Homo sapiens: one gene and its partner. The protein of the gene in region 1 interacts with the protein of each later gene in a biochemical or structural test. Each region holds a gene or a part of one and is shown on either strand. Other genes may lie near its edges.

What was found. Proteins that work in one complex are often made in the same cells at the same time.
Region 2: the proteins of ANAPC4 (region 1) and MAD2L1BP form a complex in vitro, tested with the Homo sapiens proteins (one study listed by BioGRID).

The regions. Positions count from the first base shown.
Region 1 is NC_000004.12:25,411,612-25,415,272, forward strand, and holds part of ANAPC4 (anaphase-promoting complex subunit 4), read left to right. Parts: intron 1-2,033; coding exon 2,034-2,131; intron 2,132-2,712; coding exon 2,713-2,774; intron 2,775-2,854; coding exon 2,855-2,893; intron 2,894-2,987; coding exon 2,988-3,089; intron 3,090-3,661. UniProt on the Homo sapiens protein: Component of the anaphase promoting complex/cyclosome (APC/C), a cell cycle-regulated E3 ubiquitin ligase that controls progression through mitosis and the G1 phase of the cell cycle.
Region 2 is NC_000006.12:43,638,840-43,641,602, forward strand, and holds the end of MAD2L1BP (MAD2L1-binding protein), read left to right. Parts: intron 1-1,181; coding exon 1,182-1,694; 3' UTR 1,695-2,102; downstream 2,103-2,763. UniProt on the Homo sapiens protein: May function to silence the spindle checkpoint and allow mitosis to proceed through anaphase by binding MAD2L1 after it has become dissociated from the MAD2L1-CDC20 complex.

The DNA.
Region 1 (3,661 bases):
CGTAGTAACACGGCTGAGAGCAAGTTGCCTAACCTCTCTGTGCCATAGTTTCTCATCTGTAAAATGAAGATGGTAATAATGCTGCCCTCAAAAAACTGGTGTGGAGATTAAATAAATTAATCTACATAAGCACTTAGACTAATGCCTGGCACTTAGCACAGAAGCAGTCTGTAGGTTAGTGTCTGAGCACTTTTTACTCAGTGTTTCTGACAACAAAATGAGAGAAATTTTTTTCCTCCTGACACCAACCAATTTTGACACCAACGGGGTGTCCTACAATTCAATTCTGACACGAATTACAGATAGTTAGCGCAGACCTCACAGGATAAGGATGCAGTCCCACAAGACTGCCCTCGCGTCAAATGTCAGGTCTCTGGGTCCCCACATCTCTTGGGTAGCCATGCTTGTTGTCTGACTTGGCTATAAGGTTAAGGTCAAGAGTTCCCAGAACCTTCCTCCCTTTCAGGTTGGATAATTTTGCTAGAATGGCTCACAAAACTCCGGGAAACATATAATTTTTGTTTACCAGTGTGTTGTAAAGAATATGACTCAGGAACAGCCACATAGAAGTGCTATATCAGGCAGGGTATGGAGAGAAAGGTGCAAAGCTTCCATGCTCTCCCAGCACCTGGACATATTCACCACCCAGAAAGTTCTCTGAACCTCATTGTCCCAGTGTATTTCTGGCGGTTTCATTATGTAGACATGATTGATGAAGTCATTGGCCATTGGTGATTGAACTCAACCTCCAAGCCCCTCTCTCTTCCTTGGAGGCTGGCGGGTGGAGCTGAAGTTTCCAAACTTCTAATCAAGGCTTGGTCTTTTTGGTGGCCAGCCCCTATCCTAAAGCTATCTAGGTGCCAGCCAAGAGTTGCCTCATTAAAACAAAAGATGGTAGTCCTAGCACTTTGGGAGGGTGAGGTGGGCGGATCACTTGAGATCAGGAGTTCGAGACCTGACCAACATAGTGAAACCCTATCTCTACTAAAAATTAGCTGGGTGTGGTGGTGTGCACCTGTAGTCCTGTTACTCGGGACACTGAGGCAGGAGAATCGCTTGAATCCGGGAGGCAGAGTTTGCAATGAGCTGAGACTGCACCACTGCACTCCAACCTGGGCAACAGAATGAGACTCTGTCTTTAAAAAAAGAAAAAAAAAAATGTTCCTGTCACCTTTATCACTCAGGAAATTCCAAGGGTTTTGGAAGCTCTGTTCTAGGAACTAGAAACAAAGATCAATGTTTTTCTGTGATAACATAGCATCTGTCACCTTGAGAACTTAAAATGTTAATGTGATTGTAGTTCATTTTATCCAGCATGGCTTTATCTAAGGGAGGGCCTACAAAGCACAGTGGAAGAGGGTGGGCATTAGAGTCAGACTTGGGTTTGATTGACAGAACTAGATACTTAGTTATTTTCACACTGGGCAATTGCCTAAACCTGTTAAGCTTCATTTTTTTTTTCATCTGTAAATTGGAGAATATGGTGTTTACTTCATATGGCTATTGTAAGCAATAAAAAAAAAGGTATTTTAAACACCTAGCATAGCAGGTGTTAGTGCTAAATTATATATTACTTTCTCCTGATAAAGTAACCTTTTAAAAAGTAAAGAGCTTATTTATATAGAGCTAGTTTCCAGTCTCTTGTTTTAGAGACTTAAAAAACAGTACTGGACTGCTGTTGTTGTTTCACTGTGGCAAAGAATAGAAGAATGAATTTTATTTCATCATATATTTGATGGTTCCCAAATCATTCCTTGCTTCTTATAGCCAGCAGAAACCTACAGTTGGATTTTGGTGAGTCTAAGTTTGTAGTAAGTGAGATTGTTTTTAGTGAGCTGTCAGCGGGGGTTGATGAAAGGCAGAAGACCATGGTCGTTTTTAATGAGGTTGTGTGAAAATCCAATGAAGTGGTCAGTGAAAATTCTACCTCGAGATAAACTGTGCAGACTGGCTCTAACAGTAGATTATTTTCTTCTAATTATAAGTTTGCTATAGCTTCTTTTATTTTTGTTTCTGTTTTTGTTTGAAACCAGAAAGTCCTTTGCTGTTTCCTTATTATCCTCGAAAATCATTGCATTTTGTGAAAAGGCGGATGGAGAATATTATTGATCAGTGTTTGCAAAAGCCAGCAGTAAGTTTGAAAGAAATGCATGTCTTTGTGTAGGAGCAATAGTGTCTACAGTATGTGGCTCACTTATGTAAATGATCTTAATTTTTAGAATGAACTATGAAAATGTTGATAGTCAACTGTTTTTGATTAACAAAAGTAACAATTTCATATGGTTCAACCTAATACTCCAACTTAAGTTTCTTACACACGTGTGTGTGTGTGTGTGTGTGTATAAAGATTACTGAAGGTGTTGGCATCTTGAGTATTTTATTTGTTCCCAGAAGAAATTCATTGTAAACAGTCTTAGTTACAGAGCTGATGTGTCTCTGCTTACTACTGAAGGATGTGAATGAATGGTTGTTATGAGACCAGAGGGAGGTGGTCTTAAACCTGCCATGTGCTTAGCACCAAGGTCCTTTTCAGCTCAGAATTTTCTCTTTTTCCTTACTGTTACAATTGTCATTAACGTTTCTTATGTACAAGGTTTGGTGATGTAGGCGATTTTTTTACCACATTCGAACAGTGATGGTCAGTCACTTTCTGTAGAGTATCTGTGTGCATATTAACGCTCTAATTATATTTTAAAATCTTATTTTATATAGGATGTAATTGGAAAATCGATGAATCAAGCAATCTGTATTCCATTGTATAGAGATACCAGAAGGTAATTCTGTTTACCTATTGGATGGTGTAATTCCGCAGCCAATTTAAATTTTTCTCATTTCTTTTTCCCTTTTATTTTAGTGAGGATTCTACACGTAGATTGTTCAAATTTCCTTTTCTGTAAGTATATATTTCTTCCCTATCTTGAGTGAACAATACAATTTTGTTTTATCCATCAATAGTTAAAAAATATTATGACAATTTTTTTTCTTAGGTGGAATAATAAAACTTCAAATCTACATTATCTTCTTTTTACTATTCTAGAAGATTCACTTTATAAAATGTGCATCTTAAGGAGACATACTGATATTTCTCAGTAAGTATTAATCTGAAGTTTGAATCAAAGAGATAAGATTTTATTATTTGTAAGAATGAAGCATACAGCCTTCCAGCATTTCAGATTTTAAACTACTTTGTGACTTTTAGATGTGTCATTTAATTGTTAGTTTTCATGTCATTAAAAGGGTAACACTGAATTAGGAAGTTATATGATCTTGTTTTAGATTATTTAATTTTTATTGGCATATAATCATTGTAGGACTTTTTTTAGAGTTAGGAAAAATATGACAGCTCAGGATATTATACTTCATTTTTTAGAAGTTAAAAACTTCCGAAAAACTAAAAGTTAAAGAAGTTTTAACTTTTTAGAAGTTAAAAACTTCTAAAAGTGGCTGCCTTATAGAAATGATTTTTGCCTAGGGTTAAGTATGCTTTTCATTAAACAAGAGGCCTTGCCTAACAGAGACTTACTTTGAAATTGAAAGTAGAAGTTCTGAAAAATAAATCATATTTAGAACGCCATTGGTAGCTTAAAAATGGTTTTAAACCTGAATTTGAAGAAAATGTTGAGACCACGATGTAACCAAAAAGAAATAATTGGGTTATTTC
Region 2 (2,763 bases), on another chromosome or scaffold:
CCTGGGCCTTATGAGCTGATAGACTTCACTATAAGGAGATTAGGTGGGAACCTGGTGATCTCTTTGTGGGGATTGGAAAGTCTTCCCTCTGGATGGGGGAGAAATTTGGCAGATGATCTAAGCATCTTCACACAGATTTTCATTCATTTCCCCTATATTCACTCTTGCCTCTGTGGTGCCTGTATCACCACTTCCTAAACCTTTCTGGGGTTCTGCTGTGTGGATCAGTTTGCATCCCTTGGGGGTCCCTTCTGTCAGCACTTGGTATTCAGCTCTCTTGAACTCTTAACTCTTCATCTTCTTTCTTTTTTTTTTTTTGAGACAGAGTCTCGCTCTGTCACCCAGGCTAGAGTGCAGTGGCGTGATCTCAGCTCACTGCAAGCTCTGCCTCCTGGGTTCAGGCTATTCTCCTGCCTCAGCCTCCCTAGTAGCTGGGACTACAGGCATCCACCACCACACTCGGCTAATTTTTTGTATTTTTAGTAGAGACAGGGTTTCGCCATGTTAGCCAGGATGGTCTTGATCTCCTGACCTTGTGATCCGCCCGCCTCGGCCTCTCAAAGTGCTGGGATTACAGGCGTAAGCCACTGCGCCCAGCCAACTCTTCATCTTCTATCTTCCAAAACTTCTGTGTTTGCATTTGGCTAGTGTTGTGTAGTTTCCAGTTCTTTCCTCTTGGGAGTTTTCTTTGTCAGTCTTTCCTCTTCTTTCCTTCATTTGTTTCTTAATTTCTTTTCTCTCATTTTGTAATATTTCAGGTGGAAGTGCAAATAAGCATGTGTTCAGTTTACTATGTTTAAGTGGAAGAACAAGTTCAAAGTCATGTTTATTAGACCAAATAATCCTCATTCCTGTTATCACTCCCCATACAGCAAAAATTTGTTGTCACTTTGTCATGTCACCAAATTTCTATTTTAGTTGCTTATATCTGGATATCCTCCACCTTCAGAACACTGTGTTTGCTGTTCTAAATGTGGGAGAATTATGGTTTTGTACAAATAATATATTTTCCTTTTCAGTATAATACCCTCTGATAAAACACAGTGTTTTGGCTGTGGCGGTTCATTGAGCTAGAAATTAAGTCCTGTAAGTCTATGTACACATCCCAGCAGGGTTCTTTTCAAAGAGCATTAGCTTCCCCCTGCCTTGTTCTTCTCTCCCACCATTCTTTGTCCTCACAGGCAGAGGAGATGCTGAAGAAGAAACCTCGGGCCACCACTGAGGTGAGCAGCAGGAAATGCCAACAAGCCCTGGCAGAACTGGAGAGTGTCCTCAGCCACCTGGAGGACTTCTTTGCACGGACACTAGTACCGCGAGTGCTGATTCTCCTTGGGGGCAATGCCCTAAGCCCCAAGGAGTTCTATGAACTCGACTTGTCTCTGCTGGCCCCCTACAGCGTGGACCAGAGCCTGAGCACAGCAGCTTGTTTGCGCCGTCTCTTCCGAGCCATATTCATGGCTGATGCCTTTAGCGAGCTTCAGGCTCCTCCACTCATGGGCACCGTCGTCATGGCACAGGGACACCGCAACTGTGGAGAAGATTGGTTTCGACCCAAGCTCAACTATCGAGTGCCCAGCCGGGGCCATAAACTGACTGTGACCCTGTCATGTGGCAGACCTTCCATCCGAACCACGGCTTGGGAAGACTACATTTGGTTCCAGGCACCAGTGACATTTAAAGGCTTCCGCGAGTGAATGAGTGCTTCTTAATCCTAAAAACACAATGGCTGAATTATCTTTCTCCATGTGGCGCTGAATCACCCATCTGGTTTGGAGCTAGAGTTGCTTCCTGGTGAGAGAGGAAGCAACTCTCCTTCTGGTTGTCTGCCTCCCCTCAGATTTCCTGATAGGCTGATGGCATGTGGCTGTGACTGTGACTGTAATCATTGCTGAACAACATCTCTTTGAATCAAAGGTTGATTTTCCCAGAGGGTGCTGGGTCAGGCATTTCTATTAGGAGTTGGAAAGCAAAAATGGGTCCATAGACACTCTATGGAGGTGTCCCTTTCTGCTCTTTGCTGTGTCCTTTCAGAATTTTTACCAGGAACATAATGTGGATGTGACTTATGAACTTAAATATAAAATAAATAGATTCTTATTATATTTTCCTGAAATTGTTTTGACTTAACTTGTCAGGTTTTAGGCTATTTTGTCTTTCTCCTTGGCCTCTTCTGCTTCAGGGCTTCTCGAATTTTTTTTTTTTTTCTTTTTTCTTTTTTGAGATGGAGTCTCGCTGTATCGCCCAGGCTGGAGTACAGTGGCACAATCTTGGTCGCTGCAACCTCCACCTCCCAGGTTCAAGGAATTCTCCTGTCTTAGCCTCTCGAGTAGCTGAGATTGCAGGTGTGCACCACCACGCCCAGCTAATTTTTGTATTTTTAGTAGAGATGGAGTTTCACCATGTTGGCCAGGCTGGTCTCGAACTCCTGCCCTCAAGTGATCCACCTGTCTTGGCCTCCCAAAGTGCTGGGATTACAGGTGTGGGCCACCGTGCCTGGCCTTAGGATTTTTTTACTAATGATTTTTTCTCTTGTTCAGCCCCAGGCTAGTCTAGGAAATTAAGTGACTTGGCCAAGTGCATATGTAGTTTGATAGCAGAGTTAGGACTAGAGTCCTCATTAGCTATCTTTTAGCCAACGTGCTTTTCTTATCCCATACAGATTTTTGTGATGCTTAAATTCTGTATCCCCCAAAGCAGAGGTCACCTTTATGTGGGAAGATTGTGGTAAGGAACTTAGCTTAGCAGGCCATTGAATGAGAGCAG